Linked DNA regions of Homo sapiens. The protein of the gene in region 4 interacts with the protein of the main gene of each other region in a pairwise test. Each region holds a gene or a part of one and is shown on either strand. Other genes may lie near its edges.

Region 1 (4,981 bases), about 22 Mb from region 4:
GGCTGTTAGGGACTGCCCTCCCACCTCGGGGAGCCTGGCCATGACCTTGCGTTCATTTCTGCCACAATCCCTTTACCACGTGCCGGGCACTTGCTGGATGCTGGGGATTAAGCTTAGTCTGGTGAAGAGGAGGCACCAGAACAGTAACAACAGGTTGAGTAGGTGGGGCAGAAGCATCTTCAAGGTGCCCAAGTTCAGGGCAGGAAGTAATGAACTGAGCTTCTCTGTCCTCACCCCCATATTTGCCAGGGTATACCCCCGAGGGGGCTGGGGAAAGTAAGAGAATGAAGCCTTTCTGTTTCCTCCAGGCGGTGAGCCAGGGAACAAGCAGTCCAGTGCCCAGAGTTTTGGTGAAAGCAGAGGAAGGGAGGAAGGGCAGGCAGCCTTGGCTTTGGATGCAGCAGGAGGTGGAGAGGGATCTATGGAGGGTGCCCAGGCAGGAGGCCCAAGCTGCTTCTTCCCTGACTTCATCATCCGCCCCCTCTCACCCAAAAAGTAAGATTCCGTAAGCTTGGAGAAATTCATTAAATACACTTTATTTAAATAGCATTTATCTCAGTTGGCTCTATGCCAGTTGGTCTTGGTATTGGGGTAAGGGGGTATTGCAGGTAAAAAGAGGTGAAGCAGATTCTGGCTTTCAGTTTCTTAGCTCAGAAATTCCAGCAATCCCTGTAGTTCTTTGCATCCCCTCACCACCTCTGGAATAGAGAGCAGGGTCTGGGAAGAGAGGCAGAAAACGCAGCTCAGGACCACAGACTTAAGGCCCAGGGCTCCCAGCCCCAGGAGGCAGCCGCTGAATTAGAGGGGAGAAAACAGACACCACAGAGAAGCCTGCAATAGTGATTCAGGCCCAGCTCTCAGCACAGGCTGGGAACCAGATCTGTGCTCATTAGTACCTCCTGGGGCCAGGCCTTGTACCAGGTTCATTAGTGATATCACCTCCCTCCTGCCTATACCTTATAAATATGCTGAACAATGTCATCTAGTTTTTCTAACTCCTTGTCAGAGCGCCGAAGGTTCTCCTCTAGGATATTTCTCTAGAAAGCAAACAGATTTTATAAGTCCTATGCATAAAAGAGCAAACTTGGTAGGACAGGGGAAACATGGCGGGGCATTTGTTAACGATGGTAGGAAATGGCCCTGGAATGGCATGGACATTCTTACATGGCTCTGGAACTTGATCATGAGTTTTTCCTTCTCATTTTTCATCTCCAGGAACATCACTCTCAGTTTGTCCACCTAGAAATATGTCCAGATCAACAGGGGTACAGCCTGGGGTCCCCACCTGCTGTCCAGCTCCTCTGTTAACTCTGAGTCACCTCCTGAGAGAGCCACACTTTCTCCTGGATCCAATTGGTGGCCATAGGCTGGCAGTTGGAGTCCAGCTGGCCTGCCAGGGCCTCCTGGAGCACTTTGGTCTCTGTCTCCGCACGCCGAAGTGAGCGGGTAAGGTGGGTCACCTCCTCTCTAAGGCTCTGGGAATGAGAATGGAGAGGTGTCCAATAGGACATAAGGATAGACAACATGTGGTGAACAAAAGCAAACCATTTCTCATACTTGGGATCCTGGCTGACCAGTAACACAGAAGGCAAAGGCCTGGGCATGATGGTGAACATACTATGAGCTCGCCACTCTTGTCTATCTGTTCTAGGATCTTCTCATTCTGCTGCTGTATCACTTCCTGGAGCTCCTTTTCATTCTGTGAGGGAAAGGGAGGTGAGAAGACACATGAAGAGCTGGTCTCTTCACAGCCCTTGCCAGGAGGTAGGAGAGAGTGCCTGACCCATGCTTAGCCCACATGGGACCAATTGATATCACGCCAATTCTTTCCCCAGGGCCAAGCCAGGCAAGGCACATTTCAGTGTTGGGAGAGCTCTGCTAGAGTTCCTGACTTCTCTCCTGAGTCAGCCTGGGAAGACAGGTCAGCCCATAGCTGACATGTGAAATGTCTGACCCCAGGAAGGGCAAAACTAGGGCAGTGGTTGGAAAATCCCCACCACCCAGATTCCTGGAGAGATAATGGCTCCCAGTGGGCCAGTAGAGCTGCCCCAGTTCTTCATCGCCCCACTTCTAGGTCCCTCCTTCACCTTGTAGCGCAAGCACAAGGCCTGGTTCAGCTTCTCTATGTCTGCTTCTTTTGCCTTCTGGACTTCCTGATGCTGTTCTTCCTGGGCCTGCAGCCTAGCTTGCAGCTCACAACTGAAGGAAGGAAGAATTTAGCAACATTCCTGTCCTCTCAGGGATCAGTTGGACCCTTGGCATAAGAGGATGTCTCACTGTCCCTCTGTCACCAAAACTGCATCCCACTCACATTTTTCGCTGCAGAGTCCTGATGGCTTCTTCTTTAGACTCTTGTAGCAGGGAACAAAGACTCTGAAGCTCAGTAGTCATAATACTCATTTCTGCCAGGCTCTCCTCCATGCCTGGGGTCTCTGAAAGAGAAAGTCCCAGATAGAGGTCTAGCCTTCCAGCCCTGGAAGGAAGGAGTGTATAGCCATCATTTCCACAACTCTTATCCGTGTTCCCCACCCACAGGATTTGAATGTCTGGAACATTACAGATCCCAGAAGGCAGAAATAAAATGAGCCCAAGTAGAATTGAGGTTTTTAGAGCAAAGCACTTCTCACTGCTTTCGTCTTTACTCATCACCACCAGATTTTCTAGAAATGAGGCAGGATCCCTGGAGCCCCTCCTAACCTGCGGGCTGAAGGGAAACCATTGATGCTACTCGGGTGAAAGCACTCTTGTCACTTCCAAGCAAGGGCACAGGAGTTGATTCTGGCTCTAAGAGAAAAACCAATAATGGGAGAGGGCCCCTCTGATGATCCAGGCAGGGGTCTACCATAATGGAAGCCAGGGTAAGATAGACAAGCCCGCTGGTGGACATCTTCAACAGCAGAAGATATCAGGAGCAGCGTCACAACTTTCCCACCCCCAAATCCCAGGGCCTTTAACCTTCATCTGCCACTGCTGTCAAGATGCTTCCCAGGAAGGTCCTGTCATTAGGCAGAGGGTGTTCCTGGGTGGGAGGACAGGCTGTACTCAGCAGAAGGGTCTCTTGTTCAGTCTAAGGGCAAAGAAGAAAAAATAGCTGCTGTTCAGGTCTAGTGAACTCCTGGGCTTCCAGGTAACTCCCAGCCATCTCCTCCAAAATGCTGTTCCACCTATTATCTCAATTCTCTATCTTCAACTTCTCCATTAGTGCCTTTCTCTGAACATGTTTATATTCTTAAGCCTCTCCAACAAAAACAGCAGTATTTTAAAAACAAACCTAAACAAAACAAAACAAAACCCTTCTTCTTACCTTAAATCCCCTTTTAGCTACTGCCTTTTCTAGAAAGAAAGGAAAGAAAGAAAAAAGAAAGAAAAAAAGAGCCTATACTTCTTGTTTATAACTCTCACCATCTATTGACTCCCCAGCCCACTACACTCAGGCTTCTCCCCTGTCATTCCACCTAAATTCTTGTCATTTGGTTCACCAATGGCAGCCTTACTTTCAAATGCAATGCATATATTTCAGCTCTTGTTTTACCTGACCTATTTGATATTGATGACCACATTGTTCTTTTAGAAACTTCCTTTTCTTAGCTTCCAGGACATGAGTCTCTCTCCTTTAAAGGCAGGCCCCACACCTTTCTGGTTATTTCTTCTCTATTCACAGGTCCTTCCTTAACTGCTGGATCCTCTGGGTTAAGTCCTTGGCCCTAAATTTACTCTAATTCATTCCCAGGGTGGCCTTGCCTTGGGAGCATCACAAAAACATCTACTTCAAACTTCCCTTCCACATGAATGACTCTTCCATCCCTCTCTCAACTTTTTCCCAGTCTTTTTCCCAGTCTGCAGACTCAAAGGCTAACTGCCTGTGAAGAATCTACCAGAAGGTTCCACAGTCAATCTGTCAACTTAGTATGTATGAAGCTGAGTTCACCATTTTCCCTGTGCCCTGATAGGGAACACCCTATCAAAAGTCTGTTCCTACTCCTGTATTTACTATTCTAGAGCAGGGAGAGGGAAGGCTAGCAAATTGTGGCCTACAGGTCAAATCTAGCCTGCCAACTATTTTTGTAAATAAAGTTTTATTGGAACACAGCCAGACCCATTAATGGCTGTATCATCTATGGCTGCTCTTGAACTACAAAGGCAGAATTGAGTAGTTGAGACAGAGACCATATGGCCCAAAAAGCCAAAAATACTTATTATATGGCCATTTATAGGAAAAGCTTGCTGGCCTCAGTCCTGAAGTAGCTGTGCTTGTGGCTGCGGCTGCTAACTGGCTGCGCACAGGTAAGGCCAGGCAAGGCGGGAGCCACTCAACATCTCCGCTTCATTTCCTTGGCTCTTCCCCTGCCATCCTCGTCCTGCTACCTGGGACTCCGGGATGTGCCCTTTCGACCCTTTCCTAACATCTTTGCTCCTTTCCGCGTACTTGAAACCCCATGGCTCAACCTCTTCTGTTCTATCCCTCTTCAGCTCTCCCAGCTGGACCTCAGCTTTTCCAATCCCAAATCCTCCTCTACTTGTTGGATTTTTCCTTGGAGTCTGTCTCTCCTACCCAGAGCATTTCCTTCTCAGCCTGCTCCCTCTCCTCCTAGGCTAGGTCCTCTCTCCAGTTCTCCCGCCTTCTCTGCCCCCCGGTCTAGGTCTCTCCCGCTGACTGGTTAGCCTGAGTCACCACTAGCTCCCCTCAGTCTCATCTCTCTCTCAGGCTCTCTACTCCTTTCAGCCTTGGTCCTCTGCCCTCCCGTCTGGGTGTCTGAGTTGTGGGGAATTGAAGTGCTTCCTATTGCTATCCCTCCTGCCACACAGGTTGAAGTGCTTCCTGGGCACAGAGCTGACCCGGAGGTGTCACTAGCCCTAGTCTCCACACACTAACACAGCTGACCCGCTGGGCCCTCTTTCCTAGCAATCTAAGGATCATCATTCACTCTTCTAACTTACTCTCACATCAAATTGGTCACTCTTACATCAAATTGGTTCTACT
Region 2 (7,029 bases), on a different chromosome or scaffold from region 4:
TCGTACTCAAAATTACAGCCCTTCAAACACCTCAAAGGCTTGGAAGGGAAACTAAATGCTGCATGAACAGGAGTCAGATTCACCTCCTCACTTGTGGGGTATGTGCTGCATGGAAAGGGGAGAGGGAAGGAGTGTAGGAATGCCCCCTCTCTCTCACTCAAGTAAATACATATGATACATCCCTAGAGCTGAGATTCTGTGAAATCCAGGCTCGCTTTGGAAGAGAGAGGATGGGCCAGAGAACATAATTGAGCCCACTTTGGAGGGCCACCATCCTCATTTTGAGACTGTCATACTGGTGTATGGATCACTCTGGCCTTGACACAGTTATTATTCCCTACTTTGTGATTTCCTTTTGACAAAAGCTACTTTTCTTCTTGAGCTTCCCAACTTGGCTCCAACTTAAACTTGGCTCCAGTTTTTTTAAGTTAAAAAACTGAACTTAAAAAATTGAGATGACCAATGCTCAGTATATTCACTTCCTCTAATTCCGGGCATTAGTGAGCTTAGAGTGTTTGCAAAACGGTGTAATTATCAGCATTCCTGTTCAGTAGAGACGACTCTGGAGGTGGCCATATTTTTAGAAGTAAAAAGCAGAACACAAAAATGGTTAAATCTGACAGAGAACAGATGATAAATACAGTAGCAACTGCAGAGTACACACTGTGAAGAAAGGTATTCGGAACTATTATATGTTTCGCCCACGTTATTCTCATCGTCTTGGATCTGAATCCATATTCTGACCCCTTCCCTGCCACTGCCTTCCACTGCTTTCTAGTGTTCTAAAAAATCCAATAATTATGTATAAAATAGCCAAAGGCACCTCAATTTGAAATTTCTTTAAGAAACTAAGTCAGTGCTTATGACGTCAAACCTCAAGCTCTAACAAAAAGACTACCTTTGCTTCCAGGCAATACAAAGGTAAAAACCTCCTAGGAGTAGGTATCAGCATCTCCCGGTGACTCAGTCACCTTTTATCTTCTTAACCCAACTTTAGGTGTACTGGGTACATACCAGAAGTACTCAAATATATTCTGAGTTGCAGTTATTAAATTGCTACACATTCCTAAAACAACTGATCTTCTTTCTGGTTTAACACATGTTTGTTATGTTTGCTTGGTCTCTGCAGACCAGAAAGGTATGACTTGGCTGAAACCCTACCATAAGAAAACCACGGAAGTATTTATCCACAAATCACACTAAACTGAATCCTCAGGGTTTGATGTGAAGACATGTTTTCACTAGAAACTGTGGAATGGGAAAAATACATAGTCCCACGGGAAAACATGCTCTTGAGCAAGTAGCAACTCTTGCAATTCTGGGTGCATGAATTACAGATTCTTAACTCATCTCCTGTTTGGACGGTCTTATGTTCCCAAAGGGTTCCTTTTGCAAATGCCCTTTTTCTTTTCAAATGTCACTTATTTCCTAATTACCTGCTTTTAAACATACCCTCTGACAGCTAAAAATTTTTTCAAACCAATTTGACACCTCCATCTTAGTATACCCACAAAGTAAACCGGCTAATTTCTACTGTGACCTATTTTCAATTAATGTTTGGAATGAGAACAGGAAAAGGTAAGTGAATTTGAAAGGATAAAGGCTGGCTAAACTACCCATAAGGGAAAACACTATTTAGAACTTTCCGTATTAAGCTCCCTCCTTCTAATTCTATTATCTATATATTGGATAATTCATTATTCTACTGCAGTGAGAATGAACACCCAGCAAACATAGAGGAAAAGCAAAAAAATATTTGTCTTCCAGTCTGGCTTGTAGAGTTAGAGTAAGAAGTTGAAGCTAATGGTGATAGCAGAAATAGTACTTAACATTTACTGAGCTCTTATGTTATAAGCACCGTTATAAGGGTTTTATTTGTGCCAATTTAATCCTCACAGACCTTGAGAGACAACATTATTATTCCTACTTTATAGGTAAGTTAATTGAGGTACAAATCCATTCATAACTTGTTCCTAGTTATATAGTTAATAAGTGTTAGACCTGAAATTTGAACTTGGCAATTGGCTTCCAGAACTTATGATTTTAACATTCTGCTATTCTGCCCCTCTCATGGTTTAGTGTTCATTCTAAAGCAGGGTTTCTACCCATATTCCATATGATTTCCTAAAATCATATAAAATTGGGTGGACAAGTACATATGCATTTTTCTGAGGACACAGTCCACACCTTTCATCAGAATCACAAAGGGGTATGTGGCCCCCCCACCCAGAAGTTCAGAACACTTTATCTACTTGTAACCCCTTCTATTTTAATGGATGTTTACTTATGGGGTGCTGCACAGGAAACATCATGGTTATAGAAGTGTTCAGTATATTCAGAAATTTATCAGCTAGAAAAAAAAAGATTATCTACAATTAGCTATATTTTACATACAATTCGCATTTTGAAAGATTTCCTTAAACTAGAAACATACTTAGCCAACACATACAATATAACTGGTAGATGTATTTACAAAGCAGCCCACACAAGTATGGATTCATTCACAATGCGACTGTAGATCACTGGTACCACTACAAGGCATACTGCTGCCCCCCTCCCCAAGCTCATCATCTTCCCTGTAATGCTTCTTTTCCTACCACCCTCTCTTTGCATTCCAGCCTCTACCCCTCATCCCCTGAGCATAGAGAAATGATCACACTTGACCATGTTTCTGCCTAGCATGCTGCCAGTAAAAATTCTGCTGCATAACTAAACTCCAGTTACCATGTTTTCCAGAAAGACTTCCCTGGCCAGGTGCCATCCCTCGGTGCTTCCACGGTTACTGACGCGTGTATTCTCCACAGCAATTACAACTGGATCAAAATCATGGATCTACATGCCCATTTCACCCACTAGACTGTGACGTCAGAGTCGGTGACATTGCCTTCAACATCTCCGTATGCTCATTACCCAGGGTGGTGCTTTCTACAGAAGGTCCTCAATCCATCCTCCTTGAAATGAATGGAAACCAACCGGCATGTGTAATGAATGGTTCCAAAAGAGAATGCTCTAGGAGTGCAGCTTGGGATGCTAGGAACACACTCCGGTCTGGAGCCCAGCTCACTCCCTGGTTCATGGTGGATGTCCAAAAATAGGCATGAAAACGAGTGAAGCGAGAATATGTACTTCTCAATTCTCAAGTTATTATTGGTGACACCCACCACCTAGTACCAGATCTCAGGAGGCTGAGATGGAAAGTTATGGGAAACTTTGTACCTCTTGCCAGTTGAATTCATGACACCCAATTTTAAATCTTTTTTCGGCCCCAAATTTGCCCACATGACCTATTTCTATTGTAACTGCCACTGGAACTTTTGACCAGGGTAAATCTTGTGCCTTCTTCCAGTGCCTCCTGCTCCCCTCATCAGTCCCCATCTGTCCTCTAACCATGCTGACTTCTGTCCAAACTGCTTCTGGACTGGCCCTGGCATAGACCTGCATTAGAGATGCAAGGCAGCAAGGTGTTTATTTATTTAGTTAGTTAGGAAAACAGAACAAATTCTGGGATGTAATGAGAAATGACATACACATAAGAGGCTTATGACCAAAATACGTTAATACTCATTGCAAAAGAAGTTCTACTTTTTAGCTTTACATTTGAAGGCTTTAAAAATATGTCTGAGAGTGCTATAGAGAGTTATACTTTCTTCCTCCCCATGTGACCTAAACCTCCAATTCAGCTGCTTAAATAGCTGACACCGACCCTAAAATGGAAAGCTCATATTACAGAGGAGAAATATGTTCTGGTTCTTTTTATTCTTCTTTATAATAATTCCTCTCGATTTTGAAAATTCCCTTTTCATGTTTGCAGGTAACTAGTTATCACTTTTAGTTTAAAGCTGTTCCTGCGTGCCAATGCCCTGATATTGGCCAGACCCGTATAAATCACTGCCTCTTTCCTTTCTTTTTACCTTCCTCCTTCTCATAGCTATTATACAGAAGTTGAGATTGTTATATATGTTGTCTATAAAAGGATATGGTACTCTTATATAAAATAGAACACTTAGGAAATTCAAGTTAAAGTGCAGAAACCTGGAGAAGAATTATGGCAGTTTACATGTTGGGCAAGATTTAAGAGGGCATCTACTCCCAAGCTGCCCTTCTCCACTCCAGCCAATGTCTCCAGACTATTTTCACATACTGCTCAGTTTGTACTATAGAACAAACAAGTAGCATTTGTTAAGTACTGCATGTGCATGATACTGGGTATGCCAACCTGGTTCCTGTCCTTTGTCATTACAGGGTCATTTCTATTCAGCCATATCACTGCAAATACACCATGTCCACAGCTCCTACCACCACGTACAACATTTCTATCAGGCTCTACAAAACAAATCTCTTCTCTATGACTTTTTCCTTTGGAGCTCAAGGTGAATCTTTTCAGCTACTTGGTTTAAAGTTTTCCATATTTCAGTTCTTCGTATTTTTTTTTAAAGGACTGCCAGTCGGAGCAAATGATTGTTGATAATAATCTCTGGCAGGGGCATTGGTTTATTTTCCCTTATGAAACTTTAAAGGTTATTTATTTATTCATTTATTATTTTGGGGATGTAGTTTCGCTCTTATTTCCCAGGCTGGAGGGTGATGGTGCGATCTTGGCTCACTGCAACTCTGCCTCCCAGGTTCAAGCAATTCTCCTGCCACGGCCTCCCAAGTAGCTGGGATTACAGTCATGTGCCACCACACCTGGCTAATTTTGTATTTTTAGTAGAGATGGGGGTTTCACCATGTTGGTCAGGCTGGTCTTGAACTCCTGACCTCAGGTGATCCACCTGCTTCAGCCTCCCAAAGTGCTAGGATTACAGGCATGAGCCACTGCACCCGGCCTAAAGATTCTTTTAATGTGGATGAAGATTTTTAATCCAGAGGCAAAGGAAAAAAAATACCTACAGTTTTAAAACCCATTTAGGGGACAACTATGTCCATGGACAGCTCCCTCTTGCACACTGCAAATAAGCAATGTCCCTTCACAGTCAACATTTTCCAGGCAATAAACTCTATACATCAGAACATATACATGTTACTAGTCCAAAGTCAAAGCTCTCAGTTGAAAATAACCTGAAGTCCCTTTCATAGATTTATCTGCATGACTGAACCTGCCTCCCCTAAAGTCCCTCCCTCACAATCATCCTTTCATTAACATTTGTTTTTCTGGCATAATTCCTCTGAGTTACATCTTATATTTAAGTTTAGTCTAGGTATCACTTTGGGGCAAGTCAAACTTTACATACTTAATTGACTTCCCAAACCTCAAACCTCTCTCTCTCCTTCTCCATCCTTCTTTCATTGGTTCTATTTCAGGTTCTTTTCATCCCTTATCTAAACTATTGCAATAAGCCCCCTAACTGCTCTTCCTGCCTTCAGTCCCTTTGTTTTACAACCAAACTTCATCACTCAAAGGTTTCTAAGACACAAGCTGGATCAAGTTTCTCTCTGTCCTTCACAGCTTTCCATCAGACAATAAATCCAATGCCTTGGCCTAGCATTTCTCAGCAAACCAGAACCTGAGTCCTACCTGCTGTTTTTCCTTTTTCTGCCACGGCCCACCAAAATCTCACAACTGACAGAACGTTCTTGCCATTGTCCTTCTTGTCTCTGTGTTTGTACGTGTCCTTGTTTCTACCTGGAATTCTCTTTCCCATTTTCTAATGAACCATGGCTCATTATTGAAGGCTAACCTCAAATGTCCCCACCTCATTAAAGCTGCCTGTTCTGACCTCTCCAGAAGTCAGATGTACTCTATCCTGCTGTTCCACAATACTTTTTATAAACCTATATTAGCACTTCATACACAGCATGGTAATTCTTTCTTGACTTTATATTCCACCAAACAGTAATTTCTTTTAAGGGCAGGAGCCATGTTAGTTACTCTATTTTCAGGGCATAAAAGAAGGCTTGATGCATAGTATGTTCTTAATTATAAGCTGAGTAAATGAAAATTACTATGGCATCCAAAACACTGCAGTTAGAAGCATGTGAATAAGAATCCTAGAGTATCTCCCACAAAGATAAATGTGAATGAATAACTTGGGGAATATAAGTAGTTTCTTAAACACTAAAACTGCAAAATAAAACACAATGAATTCAATGATTATCTGTATTCTTTTTCGTGATTAATACTATTAAAAATTCAATTTTTCTTGTGCATTTTACAAGATAAGCTCATTGAGAGCAGGGATCCTAAATATCTTGTTCAGCCCAATAGTGCAGATGATCCCATGTTATTTTTTAAAGTAGATAGACCCACCTGGAAAATGTTTTAGCTGCAGTTCACTTCCCATACTTAATTCTTTCTTCCCTGAATGGTAGTTACTTTTGTGACTATACTCTCAACTAGGTTATAGGTCTTTCTGGTGAGGAAGGGTTTAAACATCTTTGTTCCCAGAGGAGTGCCTTGCACATAGTAGGTATTCAGTAAATACCCGATGAGTGATTTTTATAAAATATTCACTCAAAAAACTGTGAGATTTTGAAAGTGCGAATTTTGAAGGTGATGGCTTCCATTCTAAGCTAAAAGGCTTAGCTTTGCAATATTAACTTAGTATTAAACTCTGTGGCAAGCATACATTGGTAAGTATTGCTAAGCCCAAAACCAAAGAGCTGACAATTAGGTATCCAGGAGTGGAACACACCTTATCTCCCTATCTCAAAAAAAAAAAAAAAAAAATCACTATGCACGTGAGATTGTAATATTCTCCACTTAAGAAGCCAGTGCTATAATGCTTTTCCTGGTGCTCGTAGGCTGGCACTATTTATATATTTTGTAATATCTCCCAACAAATGGCTTATATCTGACAGGCTGTGAATAGAATACGTTAAGGGGAATTGGGAATGAATACTTTGAGCCAAGTTAAATGGTTAGTGTGAGAACCAAACTCCAAGAGCATGGTGTCAATAGCGTAGTCAACTGTTGATAGCCCAGTCCTCCTTTGTCAGGTACAATTTTCACATGTTAAGTTTCAGAAGGCAATGGGACAGAAATGAAGAACTCTTAAAGACAAACGAATTTGAACAGAAGGTCAAAATTAA
Region 3 (7,086 bases), on a different chromosome or scaffold from region 4:
GCAAGACTATCAGGAAAGAAGGAGTTTTGTTTTTCCTTGAACTGGGATTGTAATTTGATAAGTAGTGGTATAAACCACCTACTATGGGCAGTAAAATGTAAAGTCCCACAGCAGTCGGCTTTGACATTTCCTGAGTATAAAAAGAAGTATACTTCAAGACAGCTCTGGGCTGGCTTGGGCCAACACTCAGTATAGCAACATACTTCTCACCAAAAGCCAGAAAGCTGTGCTGAAACTACCTTGGAAACCATTCTATTTGTGTCAGAGAGATTAATTAATCAATTAATAGCTAATCCACAAACATAAAGCCACCTCTGCTTCCCACTTGAGGGGATTCCTCCTCACACCTGGTGCCATAGCACAGTGGTATTTACATATAGGAGATGCCAGATGAGCTCTCTGAAGTCACTGTAAGCAATTCTCAGAGCCACCAAGTTTAAGTCAGGAAGGGGTTTGAAGATACATAGGAGTTATTCCAGGGTAATGAATTCCCGAACTCACCCTGGCCCTTCGATCAGGTCTCTATGCAGGGCAGTGGGTACCCAGGAGATCAAAATTCAAAATGTGGTTTGGCCAACTTCAAGTTGTTGTCTTTTTTTCCCCTTTCTCCTCCCAAGAAAAAAACTGAAGAGAGGTAAGGGGAAGTGTTTTTCAACTAATTCAAACTGGCACACTTCTTTGAACCTACTCTGCCAGTTTCCAAATGATGCTTGGGTTTTTTAAATAACCATACAGATTTATCAACATTCTAACTTGGAGGATGAACAGTCTACAGGTTCAAAATTCATGGTTCTCAAACCAACAGCTACATGTATCTTGCTTCTGAGGACTTGTGTCGATTTCAAAATCAGAGCTGGTGGGAGCTGCCATCTGCCTAAGTGGCCTCTCTGCAGTGCCTGAAGAGTCAAGCACAGTGTATATGTATGTTTGCTGAATGAATGAGTAGATGAATGAAACAATCTCCAAGAGAGGAAAACAGCCATTACACACTAAGAAACTTATCACTGACTCTCTTTAACACATCACTTCTACTCTCCTAGGACCCTTCCAGATCTAGGAGTACAATACAATCGTCAAGAAGCATGCATGCATTTTCTTCTAGCAAAAGGGAAGCTAAGGTTACAACCTAGTTATAACTTCCTCAAGCCTATCGTCTTGGGAAATAAATTCCTAATCCTTTCCCTCAGGTAATTAAAGGCAAGTAAGCAAACAAAATAAAACCTAATCAGCTATGAATGGTTCCCTTTTCTAAAATCTGCTTCCCCTCCCTCAGTTTCTTTGGCCCTAGGTGTCTGGCAGTGGGTGGGCCTACACTTCGGTGTGCCAGGGCTTATCAGGGAGGTGGTATGGATAGAGCCTGTCAAAAAGGGTCCAAGTGCTGCTGGTCAGTTTCCAGTTCTTCCACTCTTCAACTTCTGCAAACCGATTTTTCAGAGGCAACATGAGTTGTGAGACTGAGCTAACTTGCCATGAGACCCTGGGCAAGTCTCTATGGGTTGAGAGAATGTTGGGTTCATCTTTTAGGCTAAATGTGAGGAAGCAAAGGAACTTGAAAAAAATAGAGAAGGTCTCAAAATTACAAAACATCTTCATTCAGTCACTAACCCTTCGTGTTCTTTCTGGTAGAAGGCAGGAACACTATTTGCCCACTTTAAGGTTCATTCTCCTTACCAGCAGGAGCTAAAAAGGCTGCTCCCCAAAACGGAGATGATACTTCCCCCTTCCTTGCTTGTCTAGACTCAAACTTTCTGGAACTAGCTGGGAAAGAGGGCCAGCTGTCTTCTCTTTACAAAGGAAAAGGTGTCTCAGCATGGCAGGAAGAACTGGAGCATAGGAGGATAAAGGGCTGGTTTCTTTCCCTATCACCAACTGAACCTCAGTACCCTCATCTACGAAATGGAGATGAGACTAGCTGCCTTAGCCCATCTCTCAGGGCCCTGGCAGGGCAGGGATGAGAGGTCCAGTGTTATTCTGACCCAGAAACTCTCTCCTGGCCCTCAACTCTCTCATTCAGGGAGCCTTCTGGGAGATTCAGAAAGGGGTGTGGAGGCTGAGGGATGCCTTAGGGCCTCTACCTCCTTACCTCTGCCACCTGGCCAGGGAGGGGCAGGAGAGTGTGGTGTGGAGCCCAGTGCACTGAGGTTCATGGCCTCCTCATCCTGTCCAATGTTGGCCCGGATGGGACAAGGATGTCATAGCTTCCCTCTGTGAGGAGGGACTCCCACCTAGAAGATCTGACAATATCCTTCTTGCTCCTCACTCCAAGGAGGTACCAACAGCCTTTAAAGGGAGAGAGACAGACAGCTTGAGAAACTTAATTCTTGACAGAAAAGAACAGAGGGAAGGAACTGGGAGAGAGGTAAAGAGAAGGTGAGAGAGAAATGACGGTACAAACAGGTAGGGAGAAAAATGGAAAGTGAAGGAACGAAGAAAACACAAAGAATCAGAAAGAGGAGGACAGACACAGATGAAGAGATGAAGACGGACTGACAGCGCGGGAGCTTCGGGGAAGCGGGGAAGACAAAGGGGACCATCCGGTCTTTTTAACTGGCCTGGCCTCTTAGAGACACCCCGTTCCCAAATGAAATGCCCAGAGGACGGGAGAAGGAGGCAGGAAGGAGCAAGCAGTGGCTCCCCCCGGTCCCCTCCGCCCGGGCCCCCGGCCCCTCCCGGGGTCCCAGCCCCCGCCCGGGTCCCACCGTCCCTCCCCGCCCGCTTGCTCACCTGCCAGCGCCAGGATCTGGGCCTTGTGGAGCAACAGCGCGCCCCAGTCGCGGGGGGCGCGCGGGGGGCTCTCGGGCCCGGCGCCCAATTCCTCCGGGCCCCGGTACACGGCGTACACCTTCTGGTTGTCAAAATCCAGCCGCGAGCGGGGGCTGAAGTCGCGCACGCACGACACGGGCAGCGCGTAGCAGACGTTGTCCTCCAGGAACCGCACAAAGGCGTACATGGTGGGCGCCGGGGGCGGGCCCCGGTCGGGCAGCTCAGCCCGCGGGGCGGGCGCGGAGGTGGGGATCCGGCGGGGGGCGCGAGTCTCGCTACGGTGCTGGGGGGGGCGGGGGCGGCTCCCCAGGACCCAGGCTCCCCCCACTGTTATTGTTCCTGAAAGCACCGTTCTGCCAATCGGCTGCTTTCGCCTGGGCGCGGAAAAGGGAGGGAGGGGGGGAAAGGGGGACGAGGGGCGGATGAGGGGGGTTTGGAAGCGCACTGCCACTTGCAAAGTCAGACCCGAGCAATCACAGCCGGAGCGCGATTCGAATGGGGAGGGAAAAGGGTTCAGAGATTCAGTTGCAATAAAAATAATAACAAGAGCATTGCAGGAAAAAAATGCATTGATTAAAAGGTGCGCTGCGTGCAGGATTATATTGCTTCAACAATCGCGCTGCCAAATTGCATTGCAACAAAACTGCATTGCCAAGTAGAGAAGTGTATGAGTGAGTGAATGCGGGATAGGGGTGGGGGCAATCTTGATTGAATCTCAAAGTGTAAACTTGGAAGCCAGCAGAAGTTTGGAGTGTTTTAAATGTAGCCACCCTACCCGCGCCCCCAGCCCCGCACCCTCCCCGCGCCTTTCCCAGCCCTTAGTTTGGCCCCGCCTTTTCTTTGCTTTCTTTCTTTTTGTTTGTTTGTTTGTTTGTTTTGTTCTGCAAAACTGCCAGCTCCCTCTGTGGAAAGGGTCAGTCAGACAGAAAATTTCCCCTAGAGCTGCCAAACCAGTTCTGACCAGAACTGGGGCTTATCTGAGATTTCCAGTTGTGCCAGCTGGCTGGGGAGGTGGAAGGTTTGTCAAGGGCTGCTCTCATCTGAGGGAGCAGTGGCGCCCCTCTCCTCTATAGTCTTTCTCCATTGAGATACCCTCTCCACAGCACGCCCACCACTGAGCAGGGACAACTTGGAATCGCGGAGGGAGTTGAGGAGCGCTCTGGGTAACACAGGCCCAAGGCTAGGGATTTCTGGAGCACTTTGAAGAGTACAGGAATAGTACTCCATGGAATAGCGGTCTTTGCTCTGTCTCTTGCCAAAGAGAGCCTGGAGGGGCTTGGGTCCCCTCCAAGACAAGCCGTGAGGACCAGCCAAAGGGGGCTGATTGGGCTCTGTACTCATAGGAACCCTATCCCACATCAGAGGAGGTCAGTACCTTCACAGGGATGCCTCGTATCAAATATGGCTAGTTATATTTCTGTTGCCTAGCCAGACCTGGCACTTGACAGGGAGTTAATGAATTTTGGGTAAAGAAGAATAAATAAAAACCCACATCCATCCATCCATCCATCCATCCATCCATCCATCCATCCATCCAACCATCCATCCATCTGTTCATTCATTCCTTTATTCAAGCAACCAATATTCACTGAGTTTACACCACCTGCCAGATTCTGGGCCAGGTGCTGGTGATAGAAATGAAAAGATAAACACCTGGATTCTTGGGCCTTGCAAAGTCAGTGTACCAGAACTTGAATCTCAGTTTTGGGTTCCTGTGCCAAAATTAGGTAACTGTATGAATAACATACCTTTCCCATCCTCACAACCTTTACAATCTAGTCTAGGAGTATTAAAGAAGTATAAGCAAGTAATGACAGTATAATGAGAAAAGTATTGTCATAGAGGAATGCTTAATGGAGGTGTTGGACTCAATTAAATGTTATATTTTTAAAAATTCATCTTAATAAACTTTAGCTGTAAGAAAAAAACAGAATAAGTGCACCAAAATGTTAATAGTGATTTTTTTAGCTTCTTAGTAGTGGTAGATGATTTTGTTTTTCCTTGTATTCATTGTGTGTGTGTGTGTGTATGTAACTATTTTCCACAATGTTTTATTACTTTATCATCAGAAAACATCAAACATTATAAAATCAAAGCACTGTGCTCATATTTCACATCAGCTGCACTGACAATGAGGCAGATATTTATTTCACTGTGAAATAGACAGTGCGTTATATAAGTGAATCCCATCAACATATAGCTCTCATATCCAAATGTGTAGGTCAGTACAAATTTTTTTAAACCAACCCACTGGTTATGTGGTACAGCCAAAAATGACCACCACTTGTCCTGATGCAGCTGTTGGTCTTATCTTGCCCCACAAGCTTGTGGAAAAAAAAGGAGCCACTCTGAGTTGTTCCAGCACATTTACTGTCATGATTATGATTTCTTTGGACTGATCCTCAGTGAGTTTTTATTTTAAGAATACATTCCTATGGTGGTCAAGGGGAAGTAATGTGCAGCAAGACTTCTGATAATTCACAAGATGGATCATGCAGAGTTGGCCGTATTTAACAAAAGTCCTTGAAGCTCCGGACTATGTTCCCAAAATGATTTCAAGTAGCCAATGGCCAACCTCCTCTCTGCATCTAAATGGGGGTGACCACAAAACATTACCAATCTCATCTCTTACTACCTTCCCAGACACAGTACACTCCAGACACCTAAACTATTTGACATTTCCAAAGATAGCATGTTTTAGCAGGTCCCAAGCTTTTGTGCTTTTTCTGCCTTCATCCTGGGAAGTTCTTCCTTCCTCAACTTACCCTGAAAATCAGCTCAAATGTCATTGCCTTTGTGAAGCCTTTCCCAACCACCCACACTTTTCAAGGATAGCCTATCTCTTTCTACTACAATATTTTGTCCCAGCACTTTTTATCTTCCCTCACTAGAATAAGAGCTCTTTGAGGGGAGGCAAAGGCTGAGTAACTTTAGCATCCCAGGTACCTAGCACAGGGCTGGGGAGTAAATGTTTATAAAACAAATGTATTAAAGAAGGACATAAAGAGAGCATGAATAACAAACCTCTTGCACATTTTTTCTTGAAAGTCTGTTCCTCTCTTTTTTTTTTTTTTTTTTTTTTTCTTGAGACGGAGTTTCGCTCTTGTTGCCCAGGCTGGAGTGCAATGGCCTGGTCTCGGCTCACTGCCACTTCCACCTCCCAGGTTCAAGCGATTCTCCTGCCTCAGCCTCCCAAGTAGCTGGGATTACAGGTGCTCGCCACCACGCCTGGCTAATTTTTGTATTTTTAGTAGAGACGAGTTTTCACCATGTTGGTCAGGCTGGTCTCAAATTCCTGACCTCAGGCAATCCACCCTCCTCGGCCTCCCAATGTGCTGGGATTACAGATGTGAGCCACCGCGCCCGGCCTTTATTATTATTAATATTATTATTATTATTACACTTTAAGCTCTGGTATACATGTGCAAAACATGCAGGTTTGTTACATAGGTATACACATGCCATGATGGTTTGCTGCACTCATCAACTCATCAACTACATTAGGTATTTCTCCTAATGCTATCCCTCCCCTAGTCCCCCAGCCCCCCACCCCCCTACAGGCCCCGGTATGTGATGTTCCCCTCCCCGTATCTATGTGTTCTCATTGTTCACCTCCCACTTATGAGAGAGAATAGGACACAAACAAATGAAAAAACATTCCATGCTCATGGATAGGAAGAATCAATATTGTGAAAATGGTCATATTGCCCAAAGTAATTTATAGATTCAATGCTATCCCCATCAAGCTACCATTAACTTTCTTCACGGAATTAGAAAAAACTACTTTAAATTTCATATGGAACCAAAAAAGAGCCCATGTAGCCAACACAATCCTAAGCAAAAAGAACAAAACTGAGGCATCATGCTACCTGACTTCAAACCATACTAGAAGGCTACAGTAGCCAAAACAGCATAGTACTGGTACCAAAACAGGTATATAGACCAATGGAACAGAACAGAGGCCTCAGAAATAATGCCACACATCTACAACCATCTGATGTTTGACAAACCTGACAAAAACAAGCATTGGGGAAAGGATTCCCTGTTTAATAAATAGTGTTAGGAAAACTAGCTAGCCATATGCACAAAACTAAAACTGGACCCCCTCCTTACACCTTATACAAAAATTAACTCAAGATGGATTGAACACTTAAATGTAAGACCTAAAACCATAAAAACTCTAGAAGAAAACCTAGGTAATACCATTCAGGACATAGGCATGGGCAAAGACTTCATGACTAAAACACTAAAAGCAATGGCGACAAAAGCCAAAATTGACAAATGGGATCTAATTAAACTAAAGAGCTTCTGCATAGTCTGTTC
Region 4 (7,964 bases):
GGCAAATGGAAAGGTTAGCACAGACAAAACCAAAAGTTAGGCCGGGCGCGGTGGCTCACGCCTATAATCCCAGTACTTTGGGAGGCCGAGGCAGGCAGATCACCTGAGGTCAGGATTTTGAGACCAGCCTGGCCAACATGGTGTAACCCCATTTCTACTAAAAATGCAAAAAAAAATTAGCCAGGCGCGGTGGCGGGTGCCTGTAATCCCAGCTACTTGGGTGGCTGAGGCATGAGAGTCGCTTGAACCCGGGAGGCGGAGGTTGCAGTGAGCCGAGATCGCACCATGGCACTCCAGCCTGGGCGACAGAGTGAGACCCTGTCTCGAAAACAAACAAACAACAACAAAAAAAAAAACCAAGGGTGAGCTACCTTGGTCTCCAGACCATACAAGCAACCCCTACACTCAGCAAGTGTCCTGTAAATACAGGCTATTGTTAGTCTCCAGGGTGAAGGATGTGAATGACTCCTCATGGAATGAGTCCACGGCTGGGACCCAGCTCAGAGCTCTTGGATATGACAGCAGCAGTCAGCCGCAGGAGGACCCCCCTGGTGCCTGGAGCCTGTTTGTCTAAGTCCAAACTCTCTTTCCAGACAGACGGTGACCCCAGGACTGAAGGAGAGGGCCCCAAAAGAACAGGCCACCCCGCCCAGCACCCCCTGTACACCAAGAGAGCACCTGTCTTCTTGCCTCGGGTCTCACTCACTCTATCCACCCTCCACAGTGGTCCATAGTGATCCTTCTAAAGGGCAGTTCTGACCGTGACACTCAACTGCTCAAAACTCTTCTGTGGCTTCTTGTTGCCCATAGGACCAAGCCCCAACTCTTGGGCCTTTCACACCAGCCGGGTGACAGCCGTGAAGGCTCTTCTTCATCAGCTAGACTGTCTTTGCCTTGACAAGCCAGAGCCCAGTGTTTGGAGCGAAGCCCAAGTTAAATTTGATGAGTTATGTGACCTTGGACAAATTCATTTCATTTCTCTGATCCCTGAGGGTGGTGAAAACAATCAAAAAGTGCTTCCAAATAAGGACTAACATTTGGCTCAGAGAGCTCTCTGCAGAGGGTCCAGAAAGAGCCACCCACTTTCTGGAGAATTCTTTCATCTTCAGAATTCCCAATGAGACACCGAGGAGAAGCCTCTGCAGCCCCCAATCCTCTCCCTGGAGGTCTGTTCATCCTAATGGCTTCTGTCCTTTCTAAGTGACACGTCTACACCTCCAGCTCTGGGTTTAAAGATGCATCCCTTGAAGGGTCCACAGACACTTACATCCAATATAAGGACGTCTTCCTGACAGCAGCTCTCATTTGACAGCAAATCCCCTCTAACTGGACCTTCTCGGCAGCTCCTGAAGTTTATCCCCTGCAAGTCCAAACCCTTAGTCTCCATCAGGAGCATCTCTGCCTCTATTCCCTTCTCCATCATGTAGCTAAAGGGCAAATTCTAATATGCTAATTAGACCAGACTTTCCACTGTTTAGAATCTTCCGGACTCCTGATCATTCCTGGGAGAGTTCTAAGCTCCTTCATATCCTTTCCCCCTGCTCTACCTTGCTCTCTGTCATCTGTTCATACCCAGACTACAATTCTGGCTCTCCTCAGGGATACACAGCTGAGTGGGCAGTACACCTTGCTTTCCCTCAGCTCTAGGCCTGGACTTGCACTATTTCCCCTACCCTAAATACCCCTTGACCTTTGCTTCCCTGGGTGAACTCTGGAATCACCTCCTCTGGGAAGCCTTCACCGACTAAGCTTGCATTTGGTGAGCCTCACTATTGGTCACTTGCTTTGCAATTTCCTATCACGTACAGCTCTTATCACCTGGTATTGTGAGCATCTGTTTCCTCCAAGACATGCTTTCATTCACTCATTCAACTATTTGTTGAGCACCTATATGTGCCAGGAACTATCTGGGGTGGTGGGGAAACAGCAGTGAACTAACCAACGTCCCTGTTTTCATGAAGTCTATATTCTTGAGGCTCTTTGAGGGCAGGAACTGCCTGGCACCAAGGAAACACTCCATAAAAAAGATGATTAGTGTTGTCAGTATTACCTGGGACACGGCACCCAAAGCACTCTTAGCTGAGCGAGCTGCAGCCTGGAGGCCCTGCTGACCTGGCTCTGGGGTTTCCAGGCGTTTCCAGGAGGGCCCTGCGCGGAGGTTGAGGTTGACGGCTCTCAGGGGCAGCCTCCTTTGGAACTGTCTGCACAGGGACCCCAGGGCCCCTACAGAGGTCTCCTGATGGCTGACCACAGGCTGCAGCTCCTTGCTGTCCTCCAGCTGCTCCTGGTGCTGGAGAGATCTCCGGCGCACGGAGGTCCCCATGTTCTGCCACCGAGAAGCCATCTGCCTGGCCAAGAGTCTTCTCTGTCCACTAGACCCTGGGGAGGAGGGCGAAAGGCAGATCAGCAAGGCATTCCCCATACCCATTCCCAGGCCCCACAGAGACCCTGGACACAGGGGAAGAGACGGGATGCAGCGGGGTGGCGGGGGCGGGCGAGTTGGTAAGTGTGGGTGCAGGAAGGAGGATGCTTCCTGGAAGAGGGGCCTCGGGTCAGCAGCATTTCTGATGTCCCGCCCTTCAAGTTTCCAAAACAGCTGTCTTTTCATCCCAACCTCCTTCCTCTCTCTGGCTCAGGCGAGGAGGGGAGGCAGGGTCAAGACACGCCGTAGCCGAGCTTCAGCGCTGGGCCCAGGACACGATCACCATCTTCTTCACCAGCTCGCCCAGACCAAACGCGCACCCGCCCAGACCCCGGCCTTCCCACCAGACGCCCCGATTTCGATCCGACTTCTTGTGGTACCCAGACGACCCCACAGGCCGTGCGTGTCCGAACCTGATGCCCTCCCCTGTGAACAGAACCTGATGCCCTCCCCTCCGAACAAAAAAATTGTTTTGAGTCCAGATCGCGCCATTGCACTCCAGCCTGGGCAACAAGGGCGAAACTTGTGCCCAGCCCGCACTCACCCGACACCACTAAGGCCGAGCACAGCCGCAGCACAGCTGCTCCTCGCCCACCGCAGCCGATTTGAAACTCTGCGCGGCTCCGCCCCCGGCCCCGTCCTCACAGCTGATTGGTTCCGTCCCCGCCCCCGCCACCGCCACCGCCCCGGGGATCCGATTGGCTCCCTCTCTCGCGGCTGCAAATGCTGCGCTTGGATTGGCCCGGCCGTGCCCATTCATCGCTCCGGCCCCCGCCCCGCCGCCAGCCTCGTGGCTCCGGGCTTTGTATCCTGCGTCCCGCTCGCGCCACTGCCCTTGCTAGCCCAGCCCCCGCGCATCGCACACCGGGTCCCCTCCCTGGAGCGCGCACAGGGTTCAGGCTGCTCTGACCCATGGGGTGGAGGCGGAGGTCCTGGGACCTAGGCCTCCTGGCTCAGGCCCCAGGCCCCAGGCCCGGCAGCGGGCAGAGACCCCTCTCATCCTGCCAAGGGGTCTGGCTTTTCCTTCTTGCTCAGTGGTTTTGTCAGAAGGAGCCAGGGACTGGCAGTGCAGAGCCCTGGGTTCCCAGAGACGTTTTCTTTCAAATTTCCCTCCTGACCCTCCCTTCCTGTGACAAGACACTGTCCCTCTCTGAGTTCCCCATACTCGCCATCCACGCTCCGCCCTCCCTAGAAAACGCGTCCCGGAAGCGGGGATAGACCAGAGTACCGGTCTGCCCTCCACCCGTCTACACCGGCTCCCCGCCCCCGCCTTGCCCCACGCATCCCTCCCTCTCTCCAGCGGAATGCCTGCCTCTCTTCTCCTTAGCATCCAAACAAATGCAGCCATTATAAAGCTCTCTCCAGCTCATCTTTCTCCTTTCGGTGACCTCAGAGCAGTGCTGCCCACTCCCCCGGCTGGTTTCTTTGTTACTTCTCCGCACAAGAGCCTGAGATGATGGCTTCTTGAGACTCTGTCTTCAGCCCTCTCCGTTTCTGGGTGGTCTCACCCACTCCTTTGGCCTCAGTGATTTCCAAGGAAAGGATGATGATAATGATTAACGTGTATATGGCACTTAGTATGCACAGGTACCGGTGTTGCAGTTTATTAACTTACTTGATCCTCTGCTATGGTTTGAATGTGTCCCTCAAATTTCACATGTTGGAAATGTAATGCCCAAATTCATATATCGGTGGCATTTTTTGTTTGTTTTTGAGACGGAATTTCACTCTTGTTGCCCAGGCTGGAGTGCAATGGCATGATCTCGGCTCACTGCAACCTCCGCCTCCCAGGTTCAAGCGATTCTCCTGCCTCAGCCTCCCTAGTAGCTGGGATTACAGGTGCCTGCCACCACGCCTAGCTAATTTTTTGTATTTTTAGTAGAGATGGGGTTTCACTATGTTGGCCAGGCTGGTCTCGAACTCCTGACCTTAGGCAATCCACCCGCCTCAGCCTCCCAAACTGCTGGGATTACAGACGTGAGCCACCGTTCCTGGCTATCGGTGGCATTTTTTAAGACATATAAATTGTTATTTATTCAAATTATAGAATATTATACAGCACTGAAAAATAAGCAAATTGTAGCCAGATGGTGTAACTTAAGTCAATCTCAGAAATATGTTAGATTAAAAAAAAGCAATATGCAGACAAACATAAAGTATGACACTGTATAAATTCAAACGCAAAAAAGCTCAACAATATGGTTTAGGAATATGCACATACATTTGTGGACAAAGCTATTATGGAAAGCAAAGGAATTGAAACACCAAAATAAAATAAGTCGTCGTTTTTGGAAGGGTGGCAGGAGAAGAGGATGTAATGAGGAAAGGGCTCAAAGGACTTCAAAGATAATGTTCCATTTTGTAGGCTGGGTGGTGGCCACATGGATGTTTACTTTCTTCTTTTTTATTTTTTTTCTTTTAGACAGGATCTTGCTCTGTTGTCCAGGCTGAGGTGCAGTGGTACAATCATAGCTCACTGCAGTCTCAACCTCCTGGGCTCAAGCAGTCCTCCTGCCTTGACCTCCCAGAGTGCTGGGATTACAAGCGTGAGCCACCTTGCCTAGTCTTTATTATTCTTTAAACCATATATGTAAGTAATTTTATACGTATCACTTTATAAATGCGTGTGTATACACATACCTGTACATATATTATTTTCTAAGTATGAGCTACTTTGTAATTTTCTTTAAAATTTTTTTTAAAATTGACAAGTAATAATTAAACATTTATGGGGCACATAGTGATGTTTTGATACATATAATGTAGAGTGATCAGATCTGGGTAATTGGCATATTCATCATCTCAAACATTATCGTTTTTCTGTGTTGGTAAGAGTCAATATCTTCCTTCTAGTTATTCGAAACTATATATTATTGTTCACTCTAGTCATTCCACAGTGCTATAGAATACTAAGCTTATTACTCCTATTTAGCTGTAACTTTGTGTCTTTTAACAAATCTCTCCTATTCCTTCCTTGCACCTACCATTCCCAACGTCCAGTATGTTGATGAGGTGAGGCCTTTGGGAGGTAATTAGCATTAGATAAGATCAAACAGATGGGGCCCCCATGATGGTACTGGTGGCTTTAAAAGAAGGGGAAGAGAGACCCGAGCTGACAGGCACGCTTTTGCCCTCTCACCATGCGATGCCTTCTGCCATGTTACAACACAGCAAGAAGGCCCTTACCAGATGCCAACCAGATGCCAGTGCTATGCTCTTGAACTTCCCATCCTCCAGACCATGAGCTAAGTGTCTTTTCTTTATAAATTATGCAGTCTGTGGTATTCAGATATAACAACAGAAAACGGACTGACATCTTCATTGTACCTACACTTGATGAGGAAGCTGAGAATACAGAATTTGGTAGGGCCCAAATTTCACTCAGTTAGTCTACACCAGGGCCAAGGGTTCAAACTTCATCAGTCTAGGGCTAGGGTCCCTGTGCCTAACCACCACACCACACTGCCTTCCTCAGCCCCTAACACCTCCACCCCCAGCTTGAGCCTCTCATCTGACATGTATAGCCAACTACCTCCTGGGTCTCATCTCCTCTTGAATGCTGCAGGCATCTTAGATAAACACACCCTAGCTGAAGTCACCCTGGTCTCCTCAATCCTCCTCCTCCCCCATATTCCCTCTTGCCTGTGATCCATTAAGCACTGTGCTAAAAAATGGGCCACAAAGGTCAACAAAACAGATACATTCCTTACTGTCATGGAGCTCAAATCTAGTGTGTGGGGAGACATAGACATGAAAGGATCAAATAACCAATAATCAGTTAATCAAAGAACTATGCAAAACTTATGTTATTGAAAGCTGAGACCTAGAGAATGAGTTAACCAGGCAACGAATGTGTGTGTGTGTGTGTGTGTGTGTGTGTGTGTGTGTGTGTGTGTGTGTGATCTTCTTGGCTCAGGGAACACCACGCTTAAGGAACCAGCATTCACTGTAAGAGACCCAGCACACACACACGTGAACTGAAACAAAAGTTTCATGAAACAATACTTGACTATGTGTGATATGACCTGAGATTTTATTTTTTATTTCATTTAAAAAAACCTTGATGGTTACAACCCACTATATTCATTCTACGAGTCACTAATGGAGTATGAGTTGTGGTTTGCAAAATATTGCTCTAGTTTGCCTGTCCATTTTGTTCACAGTGAAGTTGTTTATCAAGAGTCAGAAATGCTTGTTTTCAAACCTGTTTACAACAGTTGCATTTGTTACTGTAATTAAGGAATTTAACTGATGTCTTTTACCAGTGAAATCCAAGGGGGAAAAGAAAAAGTTGTTGTTTCTATGAAAACTAAGATGAAAGTGTGGGAAAGACTCCATGAAGGTGAAACATTTAGAAACAAGCCAAGTCTCTCAAACCGGAGTGTCTTATCACAATAGCCTCCCCAGTGCCTGTCATGTCACAGGCATCCGTAATAATAGCTTATATTTTTTGAGCCCTCACCATGTGTCAGACTCTCTGCTAAGGGCATTTACTTTCTTTATTCTTTTTTAATCCTCAAGCAATTCTATGAAGTAGGTACGTTTTTTATTTCCATTACAGATGACAAAAGTGAGATGCAGACAGGTGAAATATCTGGTCCAAGATTGTATGGGATGTCAGAACTGGAGCTTAAATCCAGTGACTGACTTCAAAGCCTGAATTCTTACCCTTAGATTACACAACTTTGTTAAGATCAGGGGTGAAACAATGAATGCATGCATGCATAAAGAGGCCCTCCCTGCTTGGAGCTTTCCACCATCTTCCCTCACTCAGAATGGTAACTGGCAGGCCAGGTTAATGAAGAACAGTCTCCATGGCAACAAGTAAAGGGGGAAGAAACATTTTCTTATGAATGGGAAGCCTTTCCCTTTTGCCTTGCGTGGAGTGGTGGCTGGAGGGAGGGAAGGAGGCTGTACTCAGGGGAAGGAGGCTCCTAGTCCAGAGGTCGGTACATTGGCTTCTGTTCTTGGTAAGGAGGAAAAACCAGTCACTTTTTCCTAGCAGAGGCTTTTGGAGGGGGAGGGAATCCAGCATCACCCTTGCCTCCGTTGGGGAGGGGGACAAACGAGGAGCTCCAGCCCTGCTCTCCAGGGGCTCTTTGTCCAAGAGCAAACATTCCACTAGTTTCCTTGACCTCCTGAAACTGTCAATCTGATGGAAGACATAGACATTAAACACATCATTGTAAACAATTACAATGGGGCAAAATAGCATGAATGTGCAGTGCTAGGGAGAAGTGACAGGGTATAAGGGGCATGGGGAGATTGACAGGAGCTGGAGGTCAGGGTAGTCTTCCCTGAATGTGTGGTGTTTGAAGTGAGGAGCTAGTGGGCCAGTGGTTGGGAGTCTGGAGCATTGCCAAGCGTTAGGACTGGGGAAAGCCTAGACAAAAAGGGTGGGGCTGAGATGAGGGGCTGAGGGTAGGGGATGGGGTGGCAAGAGACAGGGTCTGTAGGCCAGAGAAGGAGCTTAAAATTTGTCCTGAAGGTGGTGGCAACTCTTTGCTGAATTTGAAGAGGGCAGTAGGTTATTAGATTGGCA

Evidence for each region.
Region 1: the proteins of PIMREG (region 4) and SPAG5 interact in binary tests that used the Homo sapiens proteins (3 or more experiments, as listed by UniProt).
Region 2: the proteins of PIMREG (region 4) and MAL2 interact in binary tests that used the Homo sapiens proteins (3 or more experiments, as listed by UniProt).
Region 3: the proteins of PIMREG (region 4) and BEND5 interact in binary tests that used the Homo sapiens proteins (3 or more experiments, as listed by UniProt).

What each region holds. Positions count from the first base shown.
Region 1 is NC_000017.11:28,577,054-28,582,034, forward strand, and holds the end of SPAG5 (sperm-associated antigen 5), read right to left. Parts: intron 3,068-4,981; coding exon 2,956-3,067; intron 2,785-2,955; coding exon 2,698-2,784; intron 2,433-2,697; coding exon 2,312-2,432; intron 2,200-2,311; coding exon 2,088-2,199; intron 1,700-2,087; coding exon 1,619-1,699; intron 1,476-1,618; coding exon 1,320-1,475; intron 1,240-1,319; coding exon 1,165-1,239; intron 1,038-1,164; coding exon 957-1,037; intron 718-956; coding exon 646-717; 3' UTR 521-645; downstream 1-520. UniProt on the Homo sapiens protein: Essential component of the mitotic spindle required for normal chromosome segregation and progression into anaphase. Required for chromosome alignment, normal timing of sister chromatid segregation, and maintenance of spindle pole architecture.
Region 2 is NC_000008.11:119,211,335-119,218,363, reverse strand, and holds part of MAL2 (protein MAL2), read right to left. Parts: intron 3,742-7,029; exon of another isoform or gene 2,737-3,741; intron 1-2,736. UniProt on the Homo sapiens protein: Member of the machinery of polarized transport. Required for the indirect transcytotic route at the step of the egress of the transcytosing cargo from perinuclear endosomes in order for it to travel to the apical surface via a raft-dependent pathway.
Region 3 is NC_000001.11:48,773,882-48,780,967, forward strand, and holds the start of BEND5 (BEN domain-containing protein 5), read right to left. Parts: upstream 3,011-7,086; 5' UTR 2,951-3,010; coding exon 2,725-2,950; intron 2,281-2,724; exon of another isoform or gene 2,148-2,280; coding exon of another isoform or gene 2,084-2,147; intron 2,050-2,083; exon of another isoform or gene 1-2,049. UniProt on the Homo sapiens protein: Acts as a transcriptional repressor.
Region 4 is NC_000017.11:6,439,491-6,447,454, reverse strand, and holds the start of PIMREG (protein PIMREG), read right to left. Parts: upstream 3,001-7,964; 5' UTR 2,967-3,000; intron 2,380-2,966; 5' UTR 2,345-2,379; coding exon 2,051-2,344; intron 2,045-2,050; exon of another isoform or gene 1,424-2,044; coding exon of another isoform or gene 1,268-1,423; intron 1-1,267. UniProt on the Homo sapiens protein: During mitosis, may play a role in the control of metaphase-to-anaphase transition.